Regions from separate parts of the Homo sapiens genome. Here all the other regions are linked to region 2. The links come from fine-mapping of genetic effects on gene expression. A gene starts in region 2. Each other region holds a variant in brackets. All regions are shown on one strand. Distances are from middle to middle. Region 1 overlaps TOP6BL (TOP6B like initiator of meiotic double strand breaks). Region 2 holds the start of TOP6BL (TOP6B like initiator of meiotic double strand breaks). Region 3 has its middle 23 kb from the start of SLC29A2.

Region 1 (10,547 bases), 58 kb before region 2:
CGAACTTGCAGGCTCAAGCAATCCTCCTGCCTCAGCCTCCCAAAGTGCTGAGATTATAGGTGTGAACCACCACACCCAGCTAAGCATAACTTTTTAAAGTCAATATCTGATATCACCAGTATCTGGAGTCCCAGTGGGTGTTTCTGTGATTTTGTTTTTGCTAGCTCTTGTTCATATTATCTTGTCCTTTCTTACACCTGGTTATTTGTGACTGTGCATGTGTGTGTGCATATGCACCATGGGACACTGTATTTGAAAAAGTGTTAAATAATTGGGAGCACAGGATGCAGTTATTTTCCTCTAGAAATTTTTGTTTGCTTCTATAAAACATCTAGAACTAACAAATCTAAAATCATCCTAATCCAATTTCAAAGTTCAAGATTTTCTGGCCTGCCTAGATGACCAAAAAGCATATACAGTCCATGTGAAGAGTAATTTATTTCAGGTTCACCTTACTCCTTAAAATATAGCCTTCTAGTTATCCCTTGCCCAAGGCAAGAGGTGTTTTTAGCAGCACTCCCAAGCTCAGCAGGTCCTGGATTCTTTGGCCTTCTTGTCCTGCACTGATTTGGAAGTATTAATACATCTTAGCCTCTCAACTGCTTGCTCTAATTGGCAAACTGCTCCAGGGCAAAAGCATCCCCCAATGCTAGGCTCAGCTCTCTGTAATTCAAACCTCTCCTAAATCATGGCACAGAAACTCTTCCTCTTCACTAGCTCTTTGATGCTTTTATGATTTTTTTGTTTGTTTGTTTGTTTTTTGAGATGGAGTCTCACTCTTGTTGCCCAGGCTGGAGTGCAATGGCGCGATCTCGGCTCACCGCAACCACCGCCTCCCAGGTTCAAGAGATTCTCCTGCCTCAGCCTCCTGAGTAGCTGGGATTACAGGCATGCACAACCATGCCTGGTTAATTTTGTATTTTTAATAGAGACAGGGTTTCTCCATGTTGGTCAGGCTGGTCTCGAACTCCTGACCTCAGGTGATCCATCCACCTTGGCCTCCCAAAGTGCTGGGATTACAGGCGTGAGCCACCACACCCGGCCTGCTTTTATGATGTTTTAATATTTCATCTAGCCTTTGCCTTCATTGAGAAGGTTGGTCTAAATTATCAAGTTTGCCACTTTCAGAAAGTAAAATCTCAACAGAATTTTCATAGCTAGCTCTCTCTCTTTTTTAAAACATCACCTCCTTAGAGGCTTCACTGCCCATATTTAAAATAACATCTCCATCATTCTCTACTACTTTGTTCTATTTATCTCCACTGCACTTATCACTACCTAATATCTATCTGTTAAATTTTCCCCAAGAGGACAAAAAATTTGTCTGTCTTATCCCTTCTAGATGATGGAATGAGGAAGAAGAAGAAACTTATTTATTCTATACTGTTCTGTACTATCTAGATATAAAGAAAAAGCATGTTTTAAAATAGAAAATGTCCAAGCATAGTCTTCATCACTATCCTGCTCCCTCCACCTCCCTAAAAGATACTATGGTATCTTTTGATATCTGATATGCAACATCAGATAGCTGACATCTATCATACCACGCCTCTTCTGTTCTCTCTTTTTTTTTATTTTGAGACAGAGTCTTGCTCTGTCGCCCAGGCTGGAATGCAGTGCTCACTGCAACCTCTGCCTCCTGGGTTCAAGTAATTCTCCTGTCTCAGTCTCCCGAGTAGCTGGGACTACAGTCATGTGCCACCATGTCCAGCTAATTTTTGTATTTTTAATAGAGACAGGGTTTTGCCATGTTGGCCATGCTGGTCTCAAACTCCTGACCTCAAGTGCTCCGCCAGCTTCGGCCTCCCAAAGTGCTGGGATTACAGGCATGAGCCACCGTGTCCGGCCTGTTCTCATTGTTTATAATTTTCTATAACTTCATTTACTCCTATAGCTTCAATCATATGACAATAACAATTATTAATATTATTGAGTACTCATTATATGCTAGGAGCTTCACATGGATTATTATACTTAATTCTAAAACGAGCAAACAAACCCCAAAAGAACAGAAAACCAATTTTTGCAAGGGAAACTAAACCTATGAGATAAGTATCATCCTCATTTTAAAGCAGAGGAAGTAAAGGCTTAGGCTGGTTAAGTGAGTTGCCTACAGTCACACAGCTAATTAGTAGTGAATCCAACATTTACACTCCTGTGCCATGCTCTAAACACAGCACTACACGACTCTTACCTATGGAGGAAACTGAGACTCTAAAATTCTGTATCTCTAAATCTGACCATTTCCAAGTTCCAGACCAAATTCCTATATAGCTCCTTACTATGTTCAAAGGATGTCTTGAGACACCATAAACTCAACATGTTTAATGTCAAACTCATCTTCTTTATCTCCTAAATCTGCTATTAATGTTTTTTTATCTTGCTGAAAGTATCATTATTCTGTCAGTTATTCATGGAAATATTTTTAAATAGCTTTATTGAGATACAATTCACATACCATACAATTCACTCATTTTAAATGTGTAATAAAATGGATTTTAGAATATTCAAAGAGTTGTGCAGTCACTACCACCATCAATTTTAGAACACTTTCATTACTCTGAAAAGAAGCCCCTCCAGGCCGAGCACAGTGGCTTATGCCTGTAATCCCAAAACTTTGGGAGGCCGAGCCTGGTGGATCGCTTGAGTCCAGGAGTTTGAGACCAGCCTGGGCAACATGGTGAAACTCTGTCTCTACCAAAAATGCAAAAATTAACTGGGCATGGTGGCATGCACCTGTGGTCTCTAGGAGGCTGAGGTGGGAGGATGGTTTGAGTCCGGGAAGCAGAGGTTGCAGTGAGCTGAGATTGTGTCACCGCACTCTGGCCTGTGCAACAGAGCCAGACCTTGTCTCCAAAAAAAAAAACAAAAAAGCCCCTCCATCAACTTTCTCTCTGTATTTGCCTATTCTAGACAGACATAGAATAGAAATCTGACATCAACCTTAGACATTCCCTGCCCCTAATCTCTCCCTACCTTAATAATGAACTGGTTACCACATTTTGTTGATTAATTCAGGTGATAAGTCTGGCCTTTCCGTGCCTACCACACTTTAGATTCAAGCACTCATTATTATTGTTATTTTATTTTTATTTTTTCTGAGGCAGAGTCTTGCTCTGTCACCGAGGCTAGAGTGCAGTGTCGTGTTCTTGGCTCACTGCAGCCTCCACCTCCCAGGTTCAAGTGATTCTCCTGCCTCAGCCTCCCAAGTAGATGGGACTATAGGCGTACACCACCACGCCTGGCTTTAATTAATTTATTTTTTTGAGACGGAATCTCACTCTGTTGCCCACGCTGGAGTGCAGTGGCTGCGATCTCGGCTCACTGCAACCTTTGCCTCCCAGGTTCAAGTGATTATCCTGCCTCAGCCTCCTGAGTAGCTGGGATTACAGGCGCCTGCCACCATGCCCAGCTAATTTTTGTATTTACTAAGATGGGGTTTCACCATGTTGGCCAGGCTGGTCTCCAAGTCCTGACCTTGTGATCCATCCGCCTCAGCCTCCCAAAGTGCTGGGATTACAGGTGTGAGCCACCACGCCCGGCCTAATTTTTGTATTTTTAGTAGACAGGGTTTCACCATATTGGCCAGGCTGGTCTCAAACCCCTGACCTCAAGTGATCCGCCCACCTCGGCCTGCCAAAGTGCTGGGATTACAGGTGTAAGCCACTGCACCCAGCCGTCAAGCACTCATTATTTTTAATCCAGTTCACTTACTTATTTACTTAGTATTACTAACTTCTGTCTCCCATCCGTACTCTATAATGCTGCTAAAGACTTCTCCCAAAACATTCAATGGTTTCTTACTATACAGAGAATAAAATTCACAATCCTTAGTATGGCACTCAAGATCTACCATATTCAACTCCAGACTACTTTTCTAGTCCCATCTCTTCCTCGTGCACCATTCATTTCATGCTTCAGTCATATTGGATTGTATGAAAAACGCATGGCATGTGTCACATTTTACAGTTTTCAGTTCCCTGGCAAAATTTTCAAGCTTGGCTTTCACATTAGATTATATGTTTTTATACAAATCATATATATTTGTAGATGCAGAATTCACATACTAAAGGCTTTCCTAAAACTGGGATATAAAAACCCATTTCAAAGATAATTGGATGGAACTTTTCATCAAAAGGATATGGAAACTGAAGAAATCCTGTTAAGCTGGTTGGAAGAAACCTTTGGGCTGGGGCACAGTGCAGCTGCTGGAGTCAGTATCAGTTCTCCCAACAAGTCCATGCCAGCCACGTCTTCAGGGATGAAAAGCATTACTGGATGTCCTAGCACAGGGTGAATTCTGCTGCAGTGTGATTCAATTGTACCAAAATTTGGTCTACTGTCAGAAAACAGACAAGTCAAATTTAACATTTTTTCCTCTTAAGAAATTATTTAAAAGAGCATTCAAAATTATTTTTGTAACCTCTAGCATATGTACAACCACACAACCTGCCATATCAGTTTTGTTGGAATAAATAACTTATGTCTCACTCAGGGAATCACAGCAATGGAAGTAGTAGAAAAACTGGCATTTCAGAGATATCATTGCTCCTGCTTTTGCTGCCACTAACGGATGCTTCTTAGTTTCTCTTTTTAAAAAAACATTTTAGACCAGGCATTGTGGCTCATGCCTGTAATCCCAGCACTTTGGGAGGCTGAGGTGGGTGGATCACTTGAGGTCAGGAGTTCAAGACCAACCTGGCCAACATGGTGAAACTCCATCTCTACTAAAGATACAATAGCTGTGCATGATGGTGCACACCTGTAATCCCAGCTATTCAGGAGGCTGAGGCAGGAGAATCGCTTGAACCTGGGAAGCGGAGGTTGCAGTGAGCTGATATTGCGCCACTGCACTCCAGCCTGAGCAACAGAGCGAGACTTTGTCTCGAAAAATAATTACTATTATTTTATTTTATTAGAGATGGGGTCTCACTATGTTTATTAGGCTGGTCTCAAACTCCTGGCCTCAAGCAATCTTTCTGCCTTGGCCTCCCAAAGTGCTGGGACTACAGGTGTGAGATATCATGACCAGCCTGTTTCTTATTCTCAAGTATACTTCCTCCACTAAAATTAATCTTTGGTTCTGAGCAAATTTCCAAATTCATTCAAAGGTCAGCATTGTGTGAGGGGGCCCATGAATCACAAATGGCCTAAAACTGGCCCCATGATACTTATAAGTCTGCTCTCACGCATGCTACACCTTCCGCTGAAGAGGTCTGAGGTTGCTGTTTGATAGTAACAATGAGAAAAAACCAGGCCATCTTTCTCTCCTAGAAAGAATCTAGTAAAATTTTGTTACTTTCCAATAGCTCTTTTCTAAACAGAGAGAAAACAGTCAACCTGAGAAAGCTGATTAAGAATGAATGAATTAATTAATAGAGAGGAAATATTAATGAACCTTTCCCTTTGTCTCTAATCAGGTCATCCAAGGAAACACATCTACAAAAATTGGCTCAAAGGCTTAAACTTGTGTCAGTACAACTATGATGATGAGCTGCTACCTGTAAGGATTGTTTATTATTAGAGGATCACTAAAGAAAGATATGGGGTGGGGAAATTATTACCTGCATATTAAATGACAAAAATATTCTCATCTGAGGTGTAATTTTGGGTGAGAATAAGAAAACAGACTAAGAACCACAGGCAGTCTCTTTAAGCCTTAAGAGACTTTGACTACTAGTGTTGCCTCTGGGCACATAAATAGAGGCAGAAACTAATGAATAAAGACTAAATTAGGGCTGGACACATTGGCTCACATCTGTAATCCCAGCTCTTTGAAAGGCCGAGGCAGGAGGATTGCTTGAGTCCAGGAGTTTGACACCAGCCTAGGCAACAACCTCATCTCTACAAAAAAAAATTTTTTTTAAATTAGCAGTATATGGGCTGGGCGCAGTGGCTCATGCCTGTAATCTCAGCACTTTGGGAGACCGAGGCAGGAGGATCACGAGGTCAGGAGATTGAGACCATCCTGGCCAACATGGTGAAACCCCATTTCTACTAAAAATACAAAAAAATTAGCTGGGCGTGGTGGCATGCACCTATAGTCCCAGCTACTCAGGAGATTGAGGCAGGAGAATCGCTTGAACCAGGGAGGTGGAGGTTGCAGTGAGGTGAGATCTGCACTCCAGCCTGGGCGAAAGAGCGAGACTCCGTCTCAAAAAAAAAAAAAATTAGCAGCGTATGGTAGCATATTTCTGTGGTCCTAGCTACTAGCTACTCGAGAGGCTGAGGTGGGAAAATGACTTGAGCCCAGGAGACCAAGGCTGCAGTGAGCTATGATGGCATCTGGGTTGAA[C/A]AGACTGAGACCCTGTCTCAAAAAAAGAAAAAATAAATTAATTGGACTTAAGCATATGTTAGGTCTTTTCTTGACATAATTCATTTTCACTTTGGATTCTGTGGTAGTTAAATGGCACAGGAAGGCAAGACAGAAGGGCTCTGTGTGTTCCATATTGTTTACCACCTCCTCCATGGATTTTTTACATTTTTTATTTATTTATTTTTTTTGAGACAGAGTCTTGCTCTGTCGCTGGAGTGCAGTGGCGTGATCTCGGCTCACTGCAACCTCCACCTCCTGGGTTCAAGTGATTCTCATGCTTTGGCCTCCCAAGTAGCTGGGATTACAGGCATGTGCTACCATGCCCAGCTAATTTTTGTATTTTTAGCAGAGACAGGGTTTTGCCATGTTGGCCAGGCTGGTCTCAAACTCTTAACCTCAAGTGATCCATCAACTTCAGCCTCCCAAAGTGCTGGGATTATAGGCATGAGCCACTGCGCCTGGCCAGATTTACTTTCTTGGAGTCTGAAGAAGATGGAGATGGGCAGAGAGATGATTTCCAAACCTATGCAAAATGCTGATGCACAGAAAATAATGTACACTGAATTCCTTTGTATTCATACTATCTCTCTAGCCAAGAATTCAAGTAAAGTTTTAAATTCATAGTCTTCTCTTCTCATGCCTAAATGGGATTGGAACTAGCAGGGTCTGTGTAAAATAAGGCCTGAAGAGAAGAAGGCACATGTCTTCAGGTCATTTAGAATAGATTCAAATACATAAATAACTTAAAATAGCAGTTTTCAACATAAAAAAAAGTTTTACTTCTGCTTTTCTTATAGAGAAGCTGACACCTGGCACTTACAAATGACAAGTGAGACAATTTCCAATTTCTACCCACATTCGTACTCGAGAGGAGAGTAAAACATGCAGAGGGACAACAAGGCTTTACGCCTTCACCTCACATAATGCTGGGAGTCGACCAAAAGAGCAATTCCATTCCCAAGGTTCAAAGTGGGTTCATTCTCCACCCTGCAAAGCAAAGCAAAGCTAAGCCATCTCTCAAAGATTCTAAAATCAATCTCTGTTTGACATAAATTTTGGCCCATGACTACTACCACCCCAGCGATTACTAGAATTCAGTAACTAATTAACCAAGGGGAAAATGGCAATCTTTAAGTTTACCCCCTCTAGAGACAGGGATGAATCTACTAAAATAATAAAATGTGGGGGTGTCAGAAAATTAGTTTCAAGGTGACTTTGGGTCAAGATATCAAACTGTGAACCTTTTGGAAATAGGACAATAATAGCTGAGAAAAATTGCAGAGCCATAGCATCATCTTAAGCCATAGACCTAAGAACTTACCCAAAGATCTCTGTGGAGAGGATTCCATTTACCTTTACACTGAAATGAAATCTGACCTGCAAAACAATAAGTTAAGTGTGAGATTTAACATGAGCCAAGATACAGATTAAAAACTTCCATATCTAATCCCTAAAGGAAAAGAATAAGCTTAAAAAATTTTAAATTAACATTACTTTTAATTGATAAACTATAACTGTATACATTCATAGGGTACAATGTGGTGTTTTGATATATGTATATAATGTGGAATGATTAAATCAAGTAGATTAACATCTATCACATAACTTACTAGCATTTTTTGTGGTAAGACATTTGAAATTTACTCTCAGCTATTTTGAAATATATAATACATTATTATTGACTATAGTCACCCCCCTGTGAAATAAGATTCTAAAGACTTATTCCTCCTGTCTAACTGAAACTTTGTACACTTTAACTAACAACTCCCTATTTCCTTCCTTAACCCACTCCCAGCCTCTGGTAACCACCATTCTATTCTCTACTATGAGTTTGACTTTTTCAGATTCCACATATAAGTGAAATCATACAGTATTTGTCTTTCTGTTGATTAAGAAAATGTGGTATATACACAATGGAATACAGTTAGTTTTTTGTGGTTTTTTTTTTTTTTTGAGACAGGGTCTTGCTCTGTTGCCCAGCCTGGAGTGCAGTGGTGTGATCTTGGTCTCCCAGGCTCAAGTGATCCTCCCACCCCAGCCTCCTGAGTAGTTGGGACCACAGGCATGTGCCACTACACCCAGCTACTTTTTGCATTTTTTTGTAGAGACAGGGTTTCACCATATTGCCCAGGCTGGTCTTGAACTCCCAAGGTCAAGTGATCCTCCTGCCTCAGCCTCCCAAAGTGCTAGGATTATAGGAATGAGCCATCATACCCAGCCTAGTCAGCCTTTAAAAAGAAGGAAATCCTGTCATTTGTGACACGGATGAACCTAGAGAAACAAGACTTTTTTTTTTTTTGAGACGGAGTTTCAGTCTGTCGCCCAGGCTGGAGTGCAGAGTGCAATGGCGCAATCTCGGCTCACTGCAACCTCCGCCTCCTGGGTTCAAGCAATTCTCCTGCCTCAGCCTCCCGAGTAGCTGGGACTACAGGCACGCGCCACTGTGCCCAGCTAATATTTGTATTTTTAGTAGAGATGGGGTTTCGCCATGTTGGCCAGGCTGGTCTTGAACTCCTGACCACCCAAGTGAGTGATCCACCCACCTCGGCTTCCCAAAGTTTTACTTCTGCTGGGATTACAGGCATGAGCCACCGTGCTCAGCCAGGAAAAAGACATTCTTTTTTTTTTTTTTGAAATGGAGTCTCACTCTGTCTCCCAGCCTGGAGTGCAGTGGCAAAATCTCAGCTCACCGCAACCTCCACCTCCCAGGTTCAATCAGTTCTCCTGCCTCAGCCTCCTGAGTAGCTGGGACTACAGGCACGCGCCACCATGCCCAGCTAATATTTGTATTTTTTTTTTTTTTTTTTTTTGGAGACAGAGTCTTGCTCTGTCACCCATGCTGGAGTGCAATGACACAATCTCGGCTCACTGCAACCTCCACTTCCCAGGTTCAGGTGATTCTCCTGCCTCAGCCTCCTGAGTAGCTGGGATTACAGGCGTGCGCCACCATGCCCGGCTAATTTTTGTATTTTTAGTAGAGACGGGGTTTCGCCATGTTGGCCAGGCTGGTCTCGAACTCCTGACCTCAGGTGATCTGCCCACCTCGGCCTCCCAAAGTGCCGGGATTACAGGCGTGAGCCACTGTGCCCAGCCAATATTTGTATTTTTAGTAGAGACAAGGTTTCACTATGTTGGCCAGGATGGTCTCAATCTCCTGACCTTGTGATCCACCCACCTCGGCCTCCCAAAGTGCTAGGATACAAGCGTGAGCCACCACGCCCGGCCAAAAAATACATTCTTTATCACTTGTATTTTCCCTAAACATACTTAATGCTTGCCTGTGTTTAAATTCTAAATCTTAAATATATTGAGCCCTATATCACAGCTCCAGGTTGTCACAAATTATCAGAAATCATCCCTGCCTCTTTGCCATTCTCTCAACCCCTATCCCTTAACTTTTTTTTTTTTTTTTTTTTTTTTGAGACAGAGTCACTTTGTCACCTAAGCTGGAGTGCAATGGTGTAAACACGGTTCACTGCAGCCTCAACCTCCTGGGTTCAAGCGATTCTCCTGCCTCAGCCCCTCAAGTAGATGGGACCACAGGTGCATGGAACCACACCCGACTAATTTTTGTATTTTTAGTAGAGACAGAGTTTCACCATCTTGCCCAGGCTGGTCTGGAACTCCTGAGCTCAAGCAATCCGCCCAAGTCGGCCTCCCAAAGTGCTGGGATTACAGGTGTGAGCCACCACACCCAGCCCCTTCACCTCCTTTTTAAAGGAACTATCCATTTTTATTTCTATTATTTTCATATGTGGAACATTCCATGCTTTTTTCTTTGCTTTTTCTTCCTCTTCTCCATCTGACTTTTATATCCTCTCCAGTGTACCTCACTGTTCTAATTATTCTCTCCATTCACCTATATTTTTCTTTCTGTGTAACATAAGGTAAGAAGTGACTCTAGAACCAGACTGCCTGAGTTCAAATCCTGACTCTTCAAGTTATTTACTCTCTGTACCATAGTTTTCTCAGCTACAAAATGCGGATGATGATGATAAAACTTACTTCACAAGGGGTGTTGTAAGAGTTAAGTGAGCGAGTGCACAAAGAGCACTTAGAATAGTGACTGAAACAATAGGCAAAAAGTAGGAAGATGGCAGAAGGGGGATGTCATAGATATGCTTAAGTGTTTATCTTTATAAACATATCTAACTACAGATAATAAAAAATTTAGCTCTCTAATATTCAAAATATTCTATCAAAATTTCTTGGCCAGGCATGATGATGGCTC
Region 2 (10,547 bases):
ATATGTGTGTGTAACTGACAAAAACTAAAACTAAATAAGTGTACATTTTTTTACAAAAAAAATGAAATAGATCCCTTATGCTAACATGAAATGCTGCCCACAAAGTACTGGTACATAGCACAGTCATATGTATAGTATAGTTCTAGTTCTAAAAAATGGATATTGATAACTAAGAACGTAGGCATAGAAAAATCTAGAAGACAGATTATCCTTGGCAAGTAGGGGGAAAAAGGAAAATCTAGAATATATACTCAATGTTAATAATCATCTCAAAGGCGTGAGATGTGTAGAAAGTCTCACTCTCCACAATATATGTTTCTGTAATGTTTTTTATCAAGCATGTATCACCACGTTTCCTACCCAAAAAAAATATATAAACATAGGCTGGGTGCGGTAGCTCACGTTTGTAATCCCAGCCCTTTGGGAGGCAGAGGCAGGTGGATCACTATCACTTGAGGTCAGGAGTTTGAGACCAGCCTGGCCAATATGGTGAAACCTCCATCTCTATTAAAAATACACACACACACAAAATTAGCCAGGCATGGTGGCAGCTGCCTGTAATCTCAGCTACTCAGGAGGCTGAGGCAGAATTGCTTGAACCCAGGAGGCAGAGGTTGCAGTGAGCCCAGATTGCGCCACTCCAGCCTGGGCGACAGAGTGAGACTCCATCTCTAAATAAATAAATAAATAATTATAACCATAATTACTTAAAGCTCAGAGACAATAAAGAGAAGAGAAATGCCCCCTATTCTAGGTGGGCTAAAGAAGTTCATCAGGCTCAAAATGCAGAATCGAGTTTCTTGCCAAAAACTACTGTGGCTAAAGTCCTTTGCTTTGAATTAAATCAACCTTGCTACCCTGGCCAGAGTTTATTGGATTAGACTATTACAACCACACACAGACCAACCATCACCCTAGACACGTAGCCAAGCATTTCTCTCAAGAGTGGTGGGAACCCTGCCAGTCAGAGTGCAGTTCATGCAGAGTAAGAGCAAACCAACCTGTCATACTGCTCTTGAAGATGTTTAATATTAATACACAAAGACAAGACAGGTCATTCCTGTTCAGGTAAGCAAATGTCTTGTAAAGCCTAGTTCACTATCCAATCTCAACTTGGTGCCCAAGTGACTTCTCTAAGCCTGAAGGGGCAACTTCAATCCAAAGTACCCTTCAATAAACCTACACACACACACACCACACACACACACACAAAAAGCTAACACTTCAAGTTTAAGAAAATTCATGCTTCAGAGCCACTCACTGCATCAGGTTTCCCTCAAAGACAACAGGCAAAAATGATAAAAGCATGAAAGCCAAATGGAAGAGATATTTTCAAACTAATCACAGTATGCACCATTCATCATTTTTCCTTTTTTTTTTTTTTTTTTGCTACTGCCAAAATTTAGACTTGGGAAAAAAAAAGTAGGTAAAGCTCAATGTAATATAATTTAGCTGTGACAAAGTAGATTAAAATCAAGAGAAAAATAAGATTGTTTCTGAGCAATTTTAACTTAAACCAGTAAAATAAATAATCTATGGTAAGAGTCATTCAACTACTCACCTTTCCTGTATGATACATTTGTAAATCTACCACCAGACACTTATTACATAATCATTTCATTTTATAATTATGGAACAATCCTGGAATAACATGATAAAAGATTCTAATTGAAATTTTTAAATAAGCTACGACATAAACCATGACAAAAGAGATAGAAAATATTTTTTCTTTCTCTACTTACTAGTTGTTACACAATGAAGAGCATTTGCCTGGTGCTTAGAATTTAATCCTTCTATGGAAATCACTAGCTGCCCTTCTAGCAATGCTCCCTTTGATACATCTATGTCACACTTCCAGTGAATTATTAAAAATCTCAAAATCTGAAAAGAGCACAATTCAAAGAAAACATAATCTTCTTTAGAAATCACAGTAATAATACATCTCTATGACCCAGTTAAATTAGTAACTCTAATTTCCCCCCAAAAATTGTATTCTTGCTTCTAAAATGTCAGATTTAGGTTTGTTCAGAGTATTGTGTCTAAACAAAATAAATAGCTAGGAGAGTGACATAAGAAAAGAGTCAGTGAAATTCAACATAATGCCCAGTAAGACAGGAAATTGAGACAATAAATTCCTTTATTCAGAAGATAAATTCATCTGGAAATAATAATTAGGGAAAAATTAAGTGGGAGTTTGTTTTTCTTGTTTCTTTTTTCCTGCCCCAAATAAAAGCCAACATGAAGACTATGAATAAGAGTGGCATCTGGTTATGAATCATCTTGATCTTTCATTAAATCAACACTTTTGAGGGTCAGAATACTATTTAAGAGTGCTAATGCTGCCCTGCGCGGTAGCTTATGCCTGCAATCCCAGCACTTTGGGAGGCCGAGGTGAGAGGATCACTTGAGCTCAACAGTTTGAGATCAGCCTGGACAACATACGCAGACCTTATCTCTACTAACAACAACAAAAATTAGCCCAGCGTGGTGGCGTGTGCCTGTAGTCTCAGCCACTGGGGAGGCTGAGGCAGGATGATCTCTTGAGCCCATAAGATTGAGGCTGAAGTGAGCCCTGATCAGGCCACTGCACTCCACACCTGGATTTGAATCCCTGATGTGCCAAATTCTAGCATGTGACCTTGGGCAAATTACTTAATCTCTCCAAACCACAGACTCCTCATCTATTAAAATGGGGATAAAACTACCACATAGGGCTGCTGCTGAAAGTAAACAAATAAGGTACGTGCAACGCTGAGCGCAGTGGCTCATGCCTGTAATCCCAGCACTTTGGGAGGCCAAGGTGGGAGAATCGCTTGAGCCCTGGAAACATAGTGAGGCCCCATCTCTACTAAAAAAAAAAAAAAATTAAATAAAAATATGTGCAAAATGCTTAACACAGTACTTGGCAAATAGCAAATGCTTAACAGATATTAGCTATTATTTCTAAGTTCTAATGCAGTAAAGACTACACACAATATTTTAAGTTGAACAGGACTCCAAGATGTCTGGGTAAAACATTTAATCGACCGGGTGTGGTAGCTCACACCTGTAATCCCAGCACTTCGGGAGGTTGAGGCGGTGGATCACCTGAGGTCAGGAGTTCAAGATCAGCCTGGCCAATATGGTGAAACCCCATCTCTACTAAAAATACAAAAATTAGCCGGGTGTGGTGGTGTGTGCCTGTAGCCCCAGCTACTTAGGAGGCTGAGGCAGGAGAATTGCTTGAACTCGGGAGGTGGAGGCCACAGTGAGCCAAGATTGGGTCACTGCGCTCCAGCCTGGGCAACAGCAACACTCCGTTTCAAAAAGAAAAAAAAAAACACATTTATTCGAGACAAATTGAAAATAAAATATATTTCATTTATTTTTGGGGGGAGAGAGGGGACAGAGTCTCACTCTGACTCCCAGGCTGGAGTGCAGTGATGGCATCATCATGGTTCACTGCAGCCTCAACCTCCCGGGCTCAGGTGATCCTCCCACCTCAGCCTCCCAGGTAGCTGGAAGTGCAGCCGCCTGCCACCACACCCTGCTAATTTTTTTTTTTTGAGATGGAGTTTTGCTCTTGTAGCCCAGGCTGGAGTGCAATGGTGCGACCTCAGCTCACTGCAACCTCCGCCCCCTGGGTTCAAGCGATTCTCCTGCCTCAGCCCCACAAGTAGCTAGGATTACAGGCATGTGCCACCACACCTGGCTAATTTTGTATTTTTAGTAGTGACGGAGTTTCTCCATTTTGATCAGGCTGGTCTTGAACTCCCGACCTCAGGTGATCCGCCTGCCTCGGCCTCCCAAAGTGCTGGGATTACAGGCGTGAGCCACCGCTAATTTTTGTATTTTTTTCAGAGACGGAGTTTCCTCATGTTAGCCAGGCTGGTCTTGAACTCCTGATCTCAAGTGATCTGCCCGCCTCGGTCTCCCAAAGTGCTGAGAATACAGGCTACCCACCGCGCCCGGCCAACTCCCATTATTATTCATGCAAACAGATTCTCACTTTTACAGGGAGGCAACACAAGGAAAATTATTACCCCCTTTTTAAAGGCAGGGAGATCTGGGAACTAAGATCCTCATTTGTACCAGTTAACAAGAATGGTTTCCAGGTACGTGTAGAGTCTAACTATTCCTTCACACGTCCTCTGTTACGATATTCCCATATCGGGCCGGGCACGGTGGCTCACGCCGGTCCCAGCACTTTGGGAGGCGGAGGCGGGCAGATCACTTGAGGTCAGAAGTTCAAGACCAGCCTGGCCAACATGGTGAAAACCTGTCTCTACTACAAATACAAAAATGAGCCAGGTGTAGCGGCGTGCGCCTGTAATCCCAGCTACTCGGGAGGCTGAGACAGGAGAATCCCTTGAACCCGAGAGGCGGAGACTGCGGTGAGCCGGGATCACGCCACTGCACTCCAGCCTGGGCGAAAGAGCGAGACTCCGTCTCAAAAAACAAACAAACAAACAAACAAACAAACAAACCCTAAAGATATTCTCATGTCGGTATGACAGCGCAGTTGGGAAAAGAACACTGGCCTATGAGTCAGCGCCCTGGGTTCTAGCCTAGGTTCGGTTATTTGTAAAATGGAATCCCGCCGCCTTCTTTGATGACAACAAACAGGCAGGACGCCCGGGGGTACTCTCTCAGGTGCCCTCAGAGCCTGTGCTTCTGTCACCTGCCCAGTACCCCTCACAAACAGCAGCTCAACGTCCCATTGGGCACCGGCCGTGAAAGTGGGTAATGAAATGAGCACACGGGGCGTGGCCGGCGCCAGGCGCTCAGTGCCGTCTTCCAGAGCAGCTCCCCGAGCACAGGTGTGGCCTCTGAACCTCGCCCTTCCACGTCCAGCTGCTTCGAACCCAGAAACCTGCACCTGCACCGGGGCCTAAAAAAACTCTCCCTCGCTCCCAGTCTGCACTGGGTCCCTCCTTGCCTCTGTCCTGGCGCCCCGACTCCCCCCACCCCGCCCCGCAACGCCAGGGCTTGCCCCATTCCTTTCCTTCTTTCCGCGCCCCCTCCCAGCACCCGGTGCATGGAAGGCGCTGGGCTCCGGCAGGCACCTCCGAGGCTGCGTCAGGCTCTGCCCCTGGGTGTCCGCCGGTGCTCGGCAAACGCCGCAGCTTTCTGAGCCGTAGGCTGGAGAGAGGGCGTCGTTCCCCCACAGAGTACCCCGCGAGCGAGAGCCCTCATCTGCTCCTACTTCCTCGCTTCCCCGTGGGAGACGGGCCTCGATTCCCGAACCTTCCTCCTTCACCTTAGGCGACGCCCGACCCCTCTGCCCAAACTTCGCGGTCTCCTCACAAAGCCCGTCTCCTCAGAAAGTGTCCTCCGCTTTCTCTCCCTTCCCAGCATCACCTCGAACACGGCCACGGCCGTCCCCTCCATGCCGCGCAGGGAACAGCGGCAACGCCCAGTCGAAGGGTACCCGCCCGCCGCCGCCGCCGCCGCCGCCGCCCCCTCCTCAGCCCGGGCTTGGAACTCCGCCAGTGCCCACGCCCGAGTCCACGCCCACGCCCGGCAGCGCGAGCCCATCCCTTCCCGCGCGCGCGCCTGCGCCCGCGCACGCCCCGCCCACCTGCCCGCCGCGCCTGCGCACTCGACGCTGCAGGGCCCCGAGACCGCGAACCGCCGCCGGGAGCCACCTAGAGCCTCTGAGCGCCGCGGGTGCCAGTGGGCCCGCAGGTGGGAGGTTCGGGGCGGGGAAGAGCCCGCGAGAGGCGGCCAAGGCTGGAGGTGAGCGGGAATGAGGCCAGGCCACGACTCCTCCCTCCTCTCAAAGATAGTTTCCCACGGTGGCGGCGAGATGCGGCCCTTGGCCCTAATCCGGGCTTTGGCCGCCCTTCGCGCTTTCCAGGACCCTTCCCTCGGCCGGGAGGGGCGACGGTAACGGCGCGGGGCTACCAAGCGGGTTCGTGACCCCTCCAACAGCCTTGTCTGCGGCGGGGGCTGCCCCAGGCCAAGCCCTGGGTCCCAGACTTAGCAAAGAAAAAGACGGCCAATTAAAATTGAATTTCATATAGACAGCGAATTTTTTTTATAACCATACACATATCTCGGCAATTTTTGGGACATATACTAAAAAATTACTAATCTGAAATTAAAAACGACGCCCTGGGCCGGGCGCAGTGGCTCACGCCCGTCATCCCAGCACTTTTGGAGGCCGAAGCGAGTGGATCACCTGAGGTCAGGAGTTCGAGACCAGCCTGGCCAACATGGTGAAACCCCGTCTCTACTGAAAATACAAAAATTAGCCGGGCGTGGTGGCGGGCGCCTGTAATCCCAGCTACTCGGGAGGCTGAGGCAGGATAATTGCTTGAACCTGGGAGGCGGAGGTTGCAGTGAGCCGAGATCGCGTCATTGCACTCCAACCTGGGCAAAAAGAGCGAAACTCTGTCTCAAAAAAAGAAAAAACGACCCCCCGTCTTTTACCTTACAACCAGCCCCAAGCATCTCCCAGCCTAATCCAGGGGGACCAGCTTCCCCCGCAAAGGTGGGACCTGGGAGTCGACCCCTCCCTATCCAGGCCCCTTTCCACGTTTGACTGCACTGAATGTGCCAAGACCAGGAGCTGGCTTTTCTGGGCTCTGGCTGACAGGAGAAGCTCTGGGGTTTTCCAAGTGCATTCCTGGCTGGAATAAGGAGGTCCTGCAGAGTCCCAGCTGCTGCTCTCTGCCAGGTTCCGGGAGGGGCATGGTGACAGGGGCTTAAGCCTATAACTGCTGGTGATCTGACAGCCAAAAGAAAACCCTGATGAGAGATTCCTGCCTGGCAAAGAGTTGCCCAAGGAGAAGGGTGGGACAGGGTGTTGGCTGCTTTCCTTCAGGAAAAATTCTTCCACCCCAGCTCCAAGACGCCAGGATTGGACAGAACAGGCTGGCGAGCTGGCAGAGTGCCTGCCCAGTACACAACCTTGGTGCTACTCCAAAGAACATTGTCTATCGAGACCTGAATCATACCCTTCTCGAGTCTATGCTCAGCGCTCCTCCCCATTCCTCCCCATCTCAGTTGCTCACAGGTAGACCTATTGGAGCAAGGTAGCTTTTATTTCTGGAAAATCCATCGTAACCATCAAACTTGATAAACAGCTGGCATTTGAGGAATCATTGGAGTCTTCCTTTCATTCCCCCCACACCCCCCGCAGAGCTCCCCATCCCCACCCCCAGTCTCTTGTCCTTTTTCAGAAGAGGAGTTGCCAAGGGGAAGGGACCAGTAACATTGAATGACTGCTTGTTGTCGGACCCCACTAGCTCTTTACATAAATGATGTCATCCTCTCAACTATCTTGTAAGAAAATTGTTATCGTCACTATTTTATGGGTGAGAAACCAAGGTATTGAGGATGGTTCTTTAAAATATTTCCCATCGTGGCCGGGCGCAGTGGCTCACGCCTGTAATCCCAACACTTTGGGAGGCCCAGGTGGGTGGATCATTTGAGGTCAGGAGTTCGAGACCAGCCCAGCCAACATGGTGAAACCCCACCTCTACTAAAAATACAAAAATTAGCCAGGCGTGTTGGCATGTGCCTGTAGTCCCAGCTACCTGGGAGGCTGAGGCAGGAGAATTGCTTGAACCCGGGAGGTGGAGGTTGCAGTGAGCTGACATCACACCACTGCACTCTAGCCCGGCTGACAGAGTGAGACTCTGTCTAAAAAAAAAAAAAAATTATCATTGTGAGTGTTGGCCCAGCAGAAAATGCTCCACCTTGAGAATGGCATTGAGAATGAAGATGAGTTGGTTTCCTAGCTTCCAGCCCTTGTCCTTGGAAATGAGCCTCTAGCTTTCAGCCCTTGTCCTTGGAATGAACTTCAGGGATAAAGGTGTAATGGAGCACCCAATACCACCCTAGAGGCAGTGGAGGCCTCTCAAAGGTAGCCAGGGACACAGCTGTCCTCCCTACTGGACATAGGGAGAAGCAAGGAGGGAAGCCTTCGATATGAGGGTTTGCCATCAGGACTTCCGTAGCGTAAACCCACGTATTCAGGCAGCATGCAATATAGGCTTGATATATGGTGAGAATCCACTCTGTGCTAAGTGCTCTTCACTTTTTCTTATTCATCTTAAGCAGTTCTCCCAATTTTGTAATCTTGTAAGAAAGATGTTATCTTTGTTTTAGAAATGATAAAAATGAGAATCCAAGAAGAAGTTGTATGAATAAATCAGGCATGGTGGCTCATGCTTGTAATTCCAGCACTTTGGGAGGCCAAGGCAGGAGGATTGTTTCAGGCCAGGAGTTTGAGACCAACCTGGGCATTATAGTGACAGCCTGTCTCTACAAAAAAATTTAAAAATTAGCCAGGTACAGTGATGCATGCCTACAGTCCTAACTACTTGGGAGGTTGAGGTGGGAGGATCTCGAGCCCCTCGAGTTGGAGGTTGCGGTGAGCTATGATTATGCCACTGCACTCCAGCTTAGTGACAGAGCAAGACCCTGTCTCAAAAAAAAAATTAAAATTTTAAAAACGGTTTTTTGCTCAGACCTCATCCTCAGAACACTAGAATGTTAGAGCCAGAAGGGACTTTGGAAATTATCAGTTATCTATTAAGATGAAGAAATTTGAAGCCCAAAGAAACTAAATGACCTGCCCTTGGTTAAGGTCACCTTAGTTAACTAGGCCAACCAAGGAGGCTTTGAGTATGGCTCTCGATATTTTCAGCCCTGGCCTTCCAGGTCTCATTTATTGGCAGTGTCTGTAGGGAGCCAGTTATTTCCAGTCCTTAGACTGGGTGACATATTGATTCTGCTTCCATTTCTGCACCCACCTCAGAATTTATATTACTGTTTCATGTTGTATTAGTTCATTCTCATGAAGACATACCCGACACTGGGTAATTTATAAAGGAAAGAGTTTTAATTGACTCATTGTTCATCATGGCTAGGGAGGCCTCAGGAAACTTAGAATCATGGCAGAAGGGGAAGTAAACAGATACTTCTTCACATGGCAGCAGGAAGGGGAAGAATGAGTGCCCAGTGAAGGGGGAAGCCCCTTATAAAACCATCAGATCTCTTGAGAACTAATTCACTATCAGAAGAACAGGATGAGGGAAACTGCCCCCATGATTGAATTATCTCCGCCTGGTCCCTCCCATGACACATGGGGATTATGGGAACTACACTTCAAGATGAGATTTGGATGGTCACACAGCCAAACCATATCACATGTCTACTTTGGATATCTTGTTTATTCCAAAAAGAAACCCTCTGTCTGAGACACACTCCCTGCCCCCCTATAAGAAGAGCCCAAGACTGATTCTGACCCAAACTCAAGGGTTTGAGTGGAACCAGAACATCCTAGGGAGTGCTGCCAGATGAACAATGACATTTTAGGGACTGTTGAGCTTTCCTTTTGAATGTGCCCTCTCTGTGTCTCCTAGACACTTCTTAAGGCCCCACCTTGTTTCTTAGGCTCCCCTAGAGCTTTCAAATGCCCTAAAGAGGCTGACCCTAGGAACTTAAGTAGAAAATATCCTTGAGGTCCGCCTTTCCAAGCTGATGCAAAAGGAAGTCCATTTGAAGACTCCCTCCCCTGGGAAAGAACCAAGCAACTATTAAGCTGTTTCCCATCCAGACAGTAGGAAAGGGTTAACTGCTTCTCTCGGGTCCTGAGCAAAGTCTGTCCCATACCAGTTCCCATAACCGGGTTTCCTGAAATGGAGCAGGTCCCAGGTGACTCTCCACTAATCACATCCTTGGAAATGGGGCCATGAGGCTCAGATTAGCTCATCCCTTCACCTTCTTGAGGCCTTCTCCACCTGGAGCACAGAATCTGGGGCAGCTTCACCACTCACCTCCCTCTGCTTTCTTATCAGGGGTCAGACAGGGATGTTCTAGCAGAGGAATATTATTGGGCTAATGGGGGCAACTAGAGGCCATAATGGTGCTGACTTTTGTGCAATTCTTGGACTACAGCATCTGTTCTTCCCCTTTCTAAGACTTAGGGGAAAAGAGAGATTCTTTTCCTGGGACAGTACCAAAGTTTATATAACTCGAGTATTTCGTTCTTCACCCCCATTCCCTGTTTTCTTCCTCTCCTTGAATAACTGACTATGATACTGACTAACTTCCTGTTCTTCCTGGCCAAGTCACCCTTTGCACAAAGTCTGATTTCTCATCCACCAGTAGCAGGTGCTGGGCCAGCCCAGGAGATTTCATTCCTTTCCTATTATTGTCCAATTTTTCCTCTGCCTAGATAGCCAATAAAATCTACATCACAAAGTGGTTCTGCCCTGTGTAACTGGCTTTTTTTTGAAGGAGTTTTGTTCTTGTTGCCTGGGCTGGAGTGCAGTGGCAGGATCTCGGCTCACTGCAACCTCCATCTCCTGGGTTCAAGCTATTCTCCTGCCTCAGCCTCACGAGCAGCTGGGATTACAGGCATGCATCACCGTACCTGGCTAATTTTTGTATTTTTAGTAGAGACAGGCTTTCACCATGTTGGCCAGGCTGGTCTCGAACACCTGACCTCATGTGATCTGCCTGTCTCAGCCTCCTAAAGTGCTGGGGGGATTACAGGCGTGAGCCACTGCGCCCAGGCTATAATTGGCTTTTTACCTTATCTCTAAGTAGGG
Region 3 (10,080 bases), 350 kb after region 2:
GCAGGGCATGGTAGTGCACGCCTGTAATCCCAGCTACTCAGAAGGCTGAGGCAGGAGAATCGCTTGAACCTGGGAGGTGGATGTTGTGGTGAGCCGAGATCGTGCCACTGCGCTCCAGCCTGGGCAACAAGAGTGAAACTCCTACTCAAAAAATAAAATAAAATAAAAATAAATAAATAAAAATACAAAACTTAGCTGGGCGTGGTGGTGCGTGCCTGTAATCCCAGCTACTCAGGAGGCTGAGGCAGGAGAATACTTGAACCTGGAAAACAGAGATTGCAGTGAGCCGAGATGGCACCACTGCACTCCAGCCTGGGCGACAGAGCGAGACTCCGTCTCAAAAAAAAGAAAAAAACGGAATGAATTTCTGACACACAGAACAACCTAAATGAACCTGCAGTGGATGCTGCTAAGTGAAAAAGGCCGATCCCAAAATGTTGAATACTGTATGATTCCTTTTTTTTTTTCTTTTTTTCTTGAGACAGAGTCTTGCTCTGTTGCTGAGGCTGGAGTGTAGTGGCTCGATCTTGGCTCTTGGCTCACTGCAACCTTCACCTCCCAGATTCAAGTGATTCTCCTGCCTTGACCTCCTTAATAGCTGGGACTACAGGTACACGCCACCATGCCAGGCTAATTTTTGTATTTTTAGTACAGATGGGGTTTCTCCATGTTGGCCAGGCTGGTCTTGAACTCCTGACCTGAGGTAATCCACCCACCTCGGCCTCCCAAAGTGCTGGGATTACAGGCATGAGCCACCACACCTAGCCTATGATTCCTTTTATATAATATTCTTGAAATGACAAAGTTATAGAAATGGAAAACTGATTAGTGATTGCCAGGGGTTGAGGATGTGGGGAAGGAGAGGGGAATGGGGAAAGAAAGTGAGTATGACCATAATGGGCAGCATGGGGGATCTTGAAGTGATAGCAGTGTTCTGTATCTTGACTGTGTCAATGTCAATATCCTGGTAGTGATATTTTACTATAGTTTTTTGTTTTGTTTTGTTTTTGAGACAGCGTCTCGCTCTGTCGCCCAGGCTCGGAGTGCAGTGGCACGATCTTGTCTCACTGCAGCCTCCGCCTCCTGGGTTCAAGCAATTCTCCTGCCTCAGCCTCCAGAGTAGCTACTGGGACTACAGGCGCGCGCCACCATGCCCGGCTAAATTTTGTATTTTTAATGGAGACGGGGTTTCACCATGTTGGCCAGGCTGGTCTCGATCTCCCGACCTCATGATCCACCCGCCTCGGCCTCTTAAAGCTCTGGGATTACAGGCGTGAGCCACCGCGGCCGGCTTCGGCCTCTCAAAGTGCTGGGATTACAGGCGTGAGCCACTGCGCCCGGCCTCGGCCTCTCAAACTCTGGATTACAGGCATGAGCCACAGCGCCCGGCCTCGGCCTCTCGAAGCTCTGGGATTACAGGTGTGAGCCACCGTGCCCGGCCAATATTGTACTATAGTTTTGCAAGATATTATCAATGGGGAAAACTGGGTAAAGGATCGCTCTGTATTATTTCTTTGAACTGCATGTACATCCACAATTATCCCAAAATAAAAAGTTTAACGGCCAGGCGTGGTGGCTCACGCCTGTAATCCCAGCAGTTTGTGAGGCCGAGGCAGGTGGATCACTTGAGGTCAGGAGTTCAAAACCAGCCTGATCAACATGGCGAAACCCCGTCTGAACTAAAATACAAAAATTAGCCGGGTGTGGTGGTGGGCGCCTGTAATCCCAGCTACTTGGGAGGCTGAGGCAGGAGAATTGCTTGAACCCAGGAGGCGGAGGTTGCAGCAAGCTGAGATTGTGCCACTGAACTCCAGTCTGGGCAACAGAGTGAGACTCTGTCTCAAAAAAAAAAAAGTTTAACTAAAAAAAAAAAAAAAAAAAAAAAGACAGGGAGTCCAGTCACAGTGATTCACACCTAGAATCCTAGCACTTTGGAAGGACAAGGTGGGAGGATCGCTTGAGCCCAGGCGTTCAAGACCAGCCTGAGCAACATAGTGAGAACTCATCTCCACAAAAAATTTAAAAATTAACCAGGTGTGGCAGCGTGTACATGGAGTCCCAGCCACTCAGGAGGTTTGGGCTGGAGGATTGCTGGAGCCCAGGAGGTTGAGGCTACAGTGAACTATGATGTGCCACTGCACTCCAGCCTGGGTGACAGAGTGAAATCTTGTCTCAAAAACAAAAACAAAACAAAAAACAAAAAAACAGGCCAGGCACAGTTGCTCACACCTGTAATTCCAGCACTTTGGGAGGCCGAGGCATGAAGATCATTTGAGGTCAGGAGTTCGAAACCAGTCTGACCAACATGGTGAAACCTTGTCTCTACTAAAATACAAAAATTAGCTGGGTGTGGTGGCAGGCACCTGTAATCTCAGCTACTCGGGAGCTTGAGGCAGGAGAATCTCTTGAACCCAGGAGGCGGAGGTTGCAGTGAGCTGAGATCATGCCACTGCACTCCAGCCTGGGCAACAGAGTGAGACTCTCTCAAAAAAAAAAGAAGAAGAAAGAAAAAAAAAGAAAACAATAAAACCCCACCAAAACCAAATAAAACCAACAAAACACAGGGCACGTGCTCCAATTCTCCCATACAGCCTTTCCCTGAGCTCCATACAGTTTCTCCATCTGGTGTCATTGGCTCCACAGAGTAATAAGAGACAAGAAGAGGATTGCTTAGACTGCAGCCTGGTTTGGCTGGAGAATCTTTTCTCAGTCTGGGCCACACTGTAAACCATAAGGTTGGCTGTAACAAATTACCACAAACTTAGTGACTTAACAAACTTTTTTTTTTTTTTTGAGATAGGGTCTTACTCTGTTGCCCAGGCTGGAGTACAGTGGCACAATCTAGGCTCATTGCAGCCTCGACCTCCCAGGCTCAGGCAATCCTCCCACCTCAGCCTCCTAAATAGCAGGGACCACAGGCATCCACCACCATGCCTGGTCTTTAAACTGGTGATTTTAACCTTGAGTGCTTGGTTAAGGCAGTGTTTGCTCTGAGTTCCTCCACTGCAAAATAACTACGTTTCTCTTTGCAATTAATAAATATATTTTGAGGAGCAGCTGATGCTTTTAACTACCCTGGAGAGTTTAAAGAAAATGAAAAGCTCTGGCCAGGCACGGTGGCTCACACCTGTAATCTCAGCACTTTGGAAGGCCTAGGGGGGCAGATCACAAGATCAAGAGATCAAGAGATCAAGACCAGCCTGGCCAACATGGCGAAACCCCGTCTCTACTAAAAATACAAAAATTAGCTGAGTGTGGTGGCGCACCTGTAGTCCCAGCTACTCGGGAGGCTGAGGCAAGAGAATCGCTTGAAACCGGGAGGCAGAGGTTGCAGTGAGCCAAGATCACGCCACTGCACTCCAGCCTGGCAACAGAGTGAGACTCCATCTCAAAAAAAAAGAAAGAAAAGCTCAGGTCATTAAATGCTTGGCTCAAGACACAGAGCACCAAGTACTTCGCATGCCTGCCGTATGAGAATTTCTTACCCCTCTAACCACAGGGCTGCTGCAGCTGCAAATCAAAGGTATAATTAACAAATAAGTTAAATTCATACTATTTCCAAGTCTTTTCTGTGAAATCTAGGGCATTGATGGGAAAGTCTGGAAACCTCAAGAATTCAAATGACAACTTTAAAAGGAATCAGATAACTCCAAGTATCATGCACCTTCAAATTATATGCCAATTGAAGTATATAATGACCTTACCAGGGGATACCAGTTTTCTTCATGCCCAGTCCCTACCTATTGATAGTATTAATTCATGTGAATAATAAGCTACACATATTTAAAGTATACAATTTGGCCAGGCGCGGTGGCTCACGCCTGTAATCCTAGCACTTTGGGAGGCCGAGGCGGGCAGATCACCTGAGGTCAGGAGTTCAAGACCAGCCTGGCCAACATGGCGAAACCCCCATCTCTACTAAAAAAAAAAAAAAAATACAAAAATTAGCCGAGCGTGGTGGTGTGCACCTGTGAACCCATCTACTCAGGAGGCTGAGGCAGGAGAATCACTTGAACCTGGGAGGCGGAGGTTGCAGTGAGCCGAGATCGTGCCACTGTACTCCAGCCTGGGCAACAGAGTCAGACTCTGTCTCAATAAATAAATAAATAAATAAATAAATAAATAAATAAATAGTACAATTTGATAAGTTTTGACGTATGTGTATACCCATGAAACTGTAACCACAATGAAGATAATGAACATATCCATTACCTTCAAAAGTTTCCTCTTGACTTTTTTTTTTTTTTTTTTGAGACAGGGTCTTGCTCCCTTTATCGGGCTGGAGTGGAGTGGTGCGATTAAAGCTCACTGAGCCTCAGACTCTCAAGCTCAAGTGATCCTCCAACCACAGCCTCCCAAATAGCTGAGACCACAGGCGTGCACCACCACACCCAGCTAATTGTTTTACTTTTCGTAGAGAGGGGTCTCACTATGTTGCTTAGGGTGGTTTCAAACTCCTGGCCTCAAGCAAGCCTCCTGCCTCTACCTCCCAAACTGCTGGAATCACAGGCATGAACCACCATGCCCAGCCTCCTCTTGACTGTTTGTAATCCTTCGTCTACCCCCTGCCCAGCCCTATCTCTAAGCAACCACTCACCTGCCTTTTGTCACTATAGATTATTTTGCATTTTCTAGTATTTTATATGAATTGGATTATACAATGCATACTATTTTTTTTGAGGGGGGAATCTGCTTCTTTCAGCATTAGTATTTCGTGATCCACCCATGCTGTGTATGTATCAATAGTTCATTACTTTTATTTATTTATGTTTTAGACAGTTTCACTCTATCACCCAGGGTGGAGTGCAGCGGCACAATCTCAGCTCACTGCAACCTCTGCCTCCTGGGCTGAAGCGATTCTTATGCCTCAGCCTCCTGAGTAGCTGAGATTACCGGCACCCACCACCATGCCCAGCTAATTTTTGTATTTTTAGTAGAGATGGGGTTTTGCCATATTGCCCAGGCTGGTCTCCAACTCCTGGGCTCAAATGATCTGCCCGCCTGGGCCTCCCAAAGTGCTAGCATTACAGGCATGAGCCACTGTGCCCGGCATCATTGCTTTTAAATTGTGAAAAGTATTCCTGTGATTTGTTTATCCCTTAACCTATTTATGGACATTGGGTTGTTTCCAGTTTTGTGCCATCACAAATAAAACTACTATGAATATTTTTGTACAAGTCCTTGTTTGGACCTATGCTTTAATTTCTTTGGAACTATACCTAGAAGTGAAACGCTGAGTCATGTGGTAGTATGTGCTTAATTTTTTCAGAAACTGCCAAATTGTTTTTCCAAAATGTACCACTTTACATTCTCATCAACAGAGTATAAGAGCTCTAGTTTCTCCTTCATAGCCAACACTCAGTATAGTCAGTCTTTTTAATTTCAGTCATTCTAATAGGCGAGTAAGTGGTAGTTCATTGCATTATTTAAAAAAAGAAATTTGACACAGTAAGCCAGGCATGGTGGCTCCCGCCTGTAATCCTGGCACTTTGGGAGGCTGAGGCAGGTGGATCACGAGGTCAGGAGTTCGAGATCAGCCTGGCCAATGTGGTGAAACCCTGTCTCTACTAAAGATACAAAAAATTAGCCAGGTGTGGTGGTGCGCACCTGTAATCCCAGCTACTCAGGAGACTGAGGCAGGAGAATCGCTTGAACCTGGGAGGTGGAGGTTGCAGTGAGCCGAGATCGCATCACTGCATTCCACCCTGGGCGACAGGACAAGTCTCCATCTCAAAAAAAAAATAGAAAAGTAAAGAAAAGAAAAAAAAGAAAGTTGACACAGGAGAAAGCGCAAATGCAGTCCCCCACTGCCACAAACAACGCAGTTGAGTTTCCCACGTTGAG[G/T]GAAATTGCAAGGGTTAGCACACCTGGAGTGCAATGGATGCACCTCACCCTGGGAAAACCACCTATGTGATCATGGCATCTCCCCTGCCAGGTAAGTCATTGTGGTTTAAATTTGCATTTCTCTAATGACCAATGACATTGAGCATATTTTATTTGCTAACTTATCATCTATATACCTTCCTTGGTATGGTGTCCGTTCACATCATCTCGTTTTTTTGTTGTTGTTTTATTTTGTTTTTTGAGACAGAGTCTCACTCTGTCAACAGGCTGGAGTGCAGTGGTGTGATCTTAGCTCACTGAAACCTCCGCCTCCCAGGTTCAAGTGATTCTCCTGCCTCAGCCTCCCAAATAGCTGGGACTACAGGCACGCACCACCACACCCTGCTAATTTTTTGTATTTTTAGCAGAGACGGGGTTTCACCCTGCTGGCCAGGCTGGTCTCGAGCTCCTGACCTCAAGTGTTCCACCAGCCTCAGCCTCCCAAAATGCTGGGATTACAGGTATGAGCCACCGCACCCAGCCAATCATCTCCATTTAAAAATGAGGTTGTCTGAATTATTATTACTTAGTTATATGAGTTATTTTAATATATTCTAGGTCCAAGTCCTTTGTCAGATATATGTTTTGCAAATATTTTCTCCCAGTCTGTGGCTTGTCTTTTTATATTCATAACAGTGTTTTTTAAAGAGCTAAAGTTTTTGTTTTTGTTTTTGTTTGAGACGGAGTCTCGCTCTGTCGCCCAAGCTGAAGTGCGGTGGCGCGATCTCGGCTCGCTGTAACCTCAGCCTCCCGGGTTCAAGCGATTCTCCTGCCTCAGCCTCCTGAGTAGCTGGGAATACGGGCTCATGCCACCAAGTGCGGCTAATTTTTTTGTATTTTTAGTAGAGACAGGGTTTCACCATGTTAGCCAGGATGGTCTCGATCTCCTGACCTCGTGATCTGCCCGCCTCGACCTCCCAAAGTGCTGGGATTACAGGCGTGAGCCACCGTGCCCGGCCAAGAGTTAAAGTTTTTAATTTTGGTGAATTCCAATTTATAATGTTTTCTTTTATGGATCATGCTTTTTGGTGTCATAACTAAGAAAATGGTCCCTTAACTAGATCAAAAATATTTTCTCCTATGTTTTCTCTTAGAAGTATCATTTGTAGGCCCGGCACGGTGGCTCACGCCTGTAATCCCAGCACTTTGGGAGGCCGAGGCAGGAGGATCACGAGGTCAGGAGATCGAGACCATCCTGGCTAACATGGTGAAACCCCGTCTCTACTAAAAATACAAAAAATTAGCCAGGCGTGGTGGCAGGCTCCTGTAGTCCCAGCTACTCAGGAGGCTGAGGCAGGAGAATGGCGTGAACCCGGGATGTGGAGCTTGCAGTGAGCCGAGATTGAGCCACTGCACTCCAGCCTGGGCGACAGAGTGAGACTCTGTCTCAAGAAAGTAAAAGTATCATTCATATAGTGCTTACAAGTAGATTTGCTGTCTCATACTCCACTGTTTTGATTACAGTTCACTTGTAGTCTAGATTAGGGTTTGTATTAGAAATATGCGCTTAGAGGTTTTTTGTTTGTTTTGTTTCTTTGTTTGTTTGTTTTTAAATGGAGTCTCCCTCTGTCGCCCAGAGTATAGTGGCGTGATCTCGGCTCACTGCAGCCTCCGCCTCGTGGGTTCAAGCAATTCTCCTGCCTCAGCCTCCTGAGTAGCTGGGATTACAGGCGCCCAACACCACGCCTGGCTAATTTTTGTGTTTTTAGTAAAGGTGGGATTTCACCATGTTGGCCAGGCTGGTCTTGAACTCTTGACCTCAAGTGATCCACCCACCTTGTCCTCTCAAAGTGCTGGGATTACAGGCGTGAGCCACTGCACCCGGCGTACTTACAGTTTTAATTAGAAATGTAAAAATGTTATTTCTTCTGATTTTAAAAATAGAAAATGTTCTCGATTTGGTTTTTAATTCATTTATTTTTAATTACATAAATGACATCAGAGAACAATCTCTTTGTACAAAAAAGAACAAAAGCACATAGAATGGGGAAGCGAAAATCACTGACAAGCACTGTTGATTCAAGAAATCTGGTTTAGCTCACCATTTACGTGTTATTTTCTTGTCTTTATTTTTTTCTTTTTTTAAATTTAGAGACAGGGTCTTACTCTGTCACCTGGGCAGAATGCAGTGGCAGGATCATAGCTCTGTGCAACCCCAGACTCCTGGGCTCAAGCAATCCTCCTTTCTCATCCTCCTGAGTAGCTAGCACTACAGGTGCATGCCACCATGCCCAGGTAATTTTTAAAGTTTTTGCAGAGACAGGATCTCACTATGTTGTCCAGGCTAGTTTCAAACTCCTGGGCTCAAATGATCCTCCCTCCTCGGCCTCCCAAAGTGATGGGATTACAGGCATGAGCCATTGTGTCCAGCCTTACATATTATTTTCACGATTCATTAATCTCCATTTAAAAAAAAATGCTGTATACAGTATGCTGTTGATATATTTTTTCCGTAGCTGTTTTTCTTATTCCAGAAATAACATGAAAGTCTTTGTGTTGGCCGGACGTGGTGGCTTACGCCTGTAATCCCAGAACTTTAGGAGGCCAAGGCGGGTGGATCACCTGAGGTCAGGAGTTCAAGACCAACATGGTGAAACCCCGTCTCTACTAAAACTATAAAAATTAGCCAAGTGTGGTGGTGGGCGCCTGTAATCCCAGCTCCTTGGGAGGGTGAGACAGGAAAATCGCTTGAATCTGGGAGGCGGAGGTTGCAGTGAGCTGAGATTGCGCCATTGCACTCCAGCCTGGGCGACAGAGTGAGACTCTGTCTCAAAAAAAAAAAAGAAGAAAGAGAGAGAAAGAGAGAAAGGAAGAGAGAGAAAGAAAGAAAGAAAAGAAAGAAAGAGAGGAAGGAGGGAAGGAAGGAAGGAAGGAGGGAGGGAAGGAAGGAAGGAAGGAAGGAAGGAAGGAAGGAAGGAAGGAAGGAAGGGAGAGAAAGGAAAGAGGCCGGGCGCGGTGGCTCACGCCTGTAATCCTAGCACTTTGGGAGGCCGAGGCGGGTGGATTACGAGGTCAGAAGTTCGAGACCAGCCTGACCAACATGATGAAACCCCTATCTCTACTAAAAATACAAAAATTAGGCGGGCATGATGGTGCACACCTATAATACCAGCTACTGAGGCAGGAGAATCACCTGAACCCGGGGGACAGAGGTTGCAGTGAGCTGAGATTGTGCCACTGTACTCCAGCTTAGGCGACGGAGCAAGACTCTGTCTCAAAAAAAAAAAAAAGAGAGAGAGAGGGAGAGAAAGAAAAAGAGAAGAAAGAAAAGAAAGAAAGAAAATTCTTTTTGTCACCACAAAAACTTTGTACGTGCAAGTTTAAGTTTAAAAAATAATTCAGAGGATTCAGGCTCTGGAGACAGAAGAAATTCCTATGAGTTACGACTATGTCTTATTGTTCCCTGAGAGGAGGCTTCCCAGGTGGTGCAAAGGCTTTCGGATGTGTTAGAAAACTGAGGTTGAAAGACCTCCTCATCACGTCTGCGTTTCCTAAAGATATTCCAAGAGTTTAGCTGTTGTTTCTCATCTAACTTCAAATGGCTTTCGCCATGGTGCAATTTCTTTTGTACTTTCCCCAATGAACTAAGCATGGAAATAGCAAAAGAAACATACAATATGATTTCTTTGACATAAAGTCCAGAACAGAGCTGCTAGCATCTCCAAGGGAATCACCAACCTTGGCTTCATCTGTAGGTCAATGGAATGTTTCTCCTCTGCTTCAGCTGGAAAATTATCTTGGCATGATCCCACTTGTAATTGAGTCCTGCCACTCATCCACCTGTTTCTCACCATAACTCTGATGTCCCTCTCAAATTTCTGCAGTCTGCTCTTTGGAGATGAAACAGATCAGTTTCATTTCAACAGATTTTAAGTCATCACATAATAAATCATTTTGCATTGATTCCCGGGTTCAAGTGGTCCTCCTGCCTCAGCCTCCCAAGTAGCTGGAACTAAAGACATGCGCGACCTCGCCCGGCTAATTTTTGTCTTTTTAGTAGACACAGGGTTTCTCCATGTTGGCCAAGCTGCTCTCAAACTCCCGATCTCAGGTGATCCACCCACCTCGGCCTCCCAAAGCACTGGGATTACAGGTGTGAGCCACCGCGCCCGGCCCCTCCTACCATCTTTGAAGCCTAGAGTAGTAAGACCAAGGAGCAACTTCCTTGAGTGGGAGCTCACATCCACTGAGTAAGGT

What was found.
Region 1: its variant is fine-mapped to the expression of TOP6BL in whole blood (TOPMed, PIP above 0.99). The same link has a PIP of 0.9 or more in lung and nasal epithelium.
Region 3: its variant is fine-mapped to the expression of TOP6BL in pancreas (GTEx, PIP above 0.99).

Annotation. Positions count from the first base shown.
Region 1 is chr11:66,797,787-66,808,333 of GRCh38, reverse strand. It overlaps TOP6BL (TOP6B like initiator of meiotic double strand breaks), which reads right to left. Exons shown (of 15, transcript NM_001302084.2): 5 at 7,638-7,693; 6 at 7,232-7,303; 7 at 4,144-4,339. Among named protein-coding and RNA genes, the nearest start is that of RCE1, 40 kb to the left of the region's middle. The variant C/A (reference allele first, on the strand shown) is at 6,296.
Region 2 is chr11:66,739,713-66,750,259 of GRCh38, reverse strand. TOP6BL (TOP6B like initiator of meiotic double strand breaks) reads right to left here and starts at 5,491. Exons shown (of 15, transcript NM_001302084.2): 1 at 5,341-5,491. It also overlaps a transcript of SPTBN2 not described here. RefSeq lists enhancers at 4,633-4,722, 5,163-5,272, 5,764-6,264 and silencers at 4,903-5,002, 5,413-5,802.
Region 3 is chr11:66,389,312-66,399,391 of GRCh38, reverse strand. It overlaps the pseudogene BRD9P1 and the pseudogene RNU1-84P. Among named protein-coding and RNA genes, the nearest start is that of SLC29A2, 23 kb to the right of the region's middle. The variant G/T (reference allele first, on the strand shown) is at 5,845.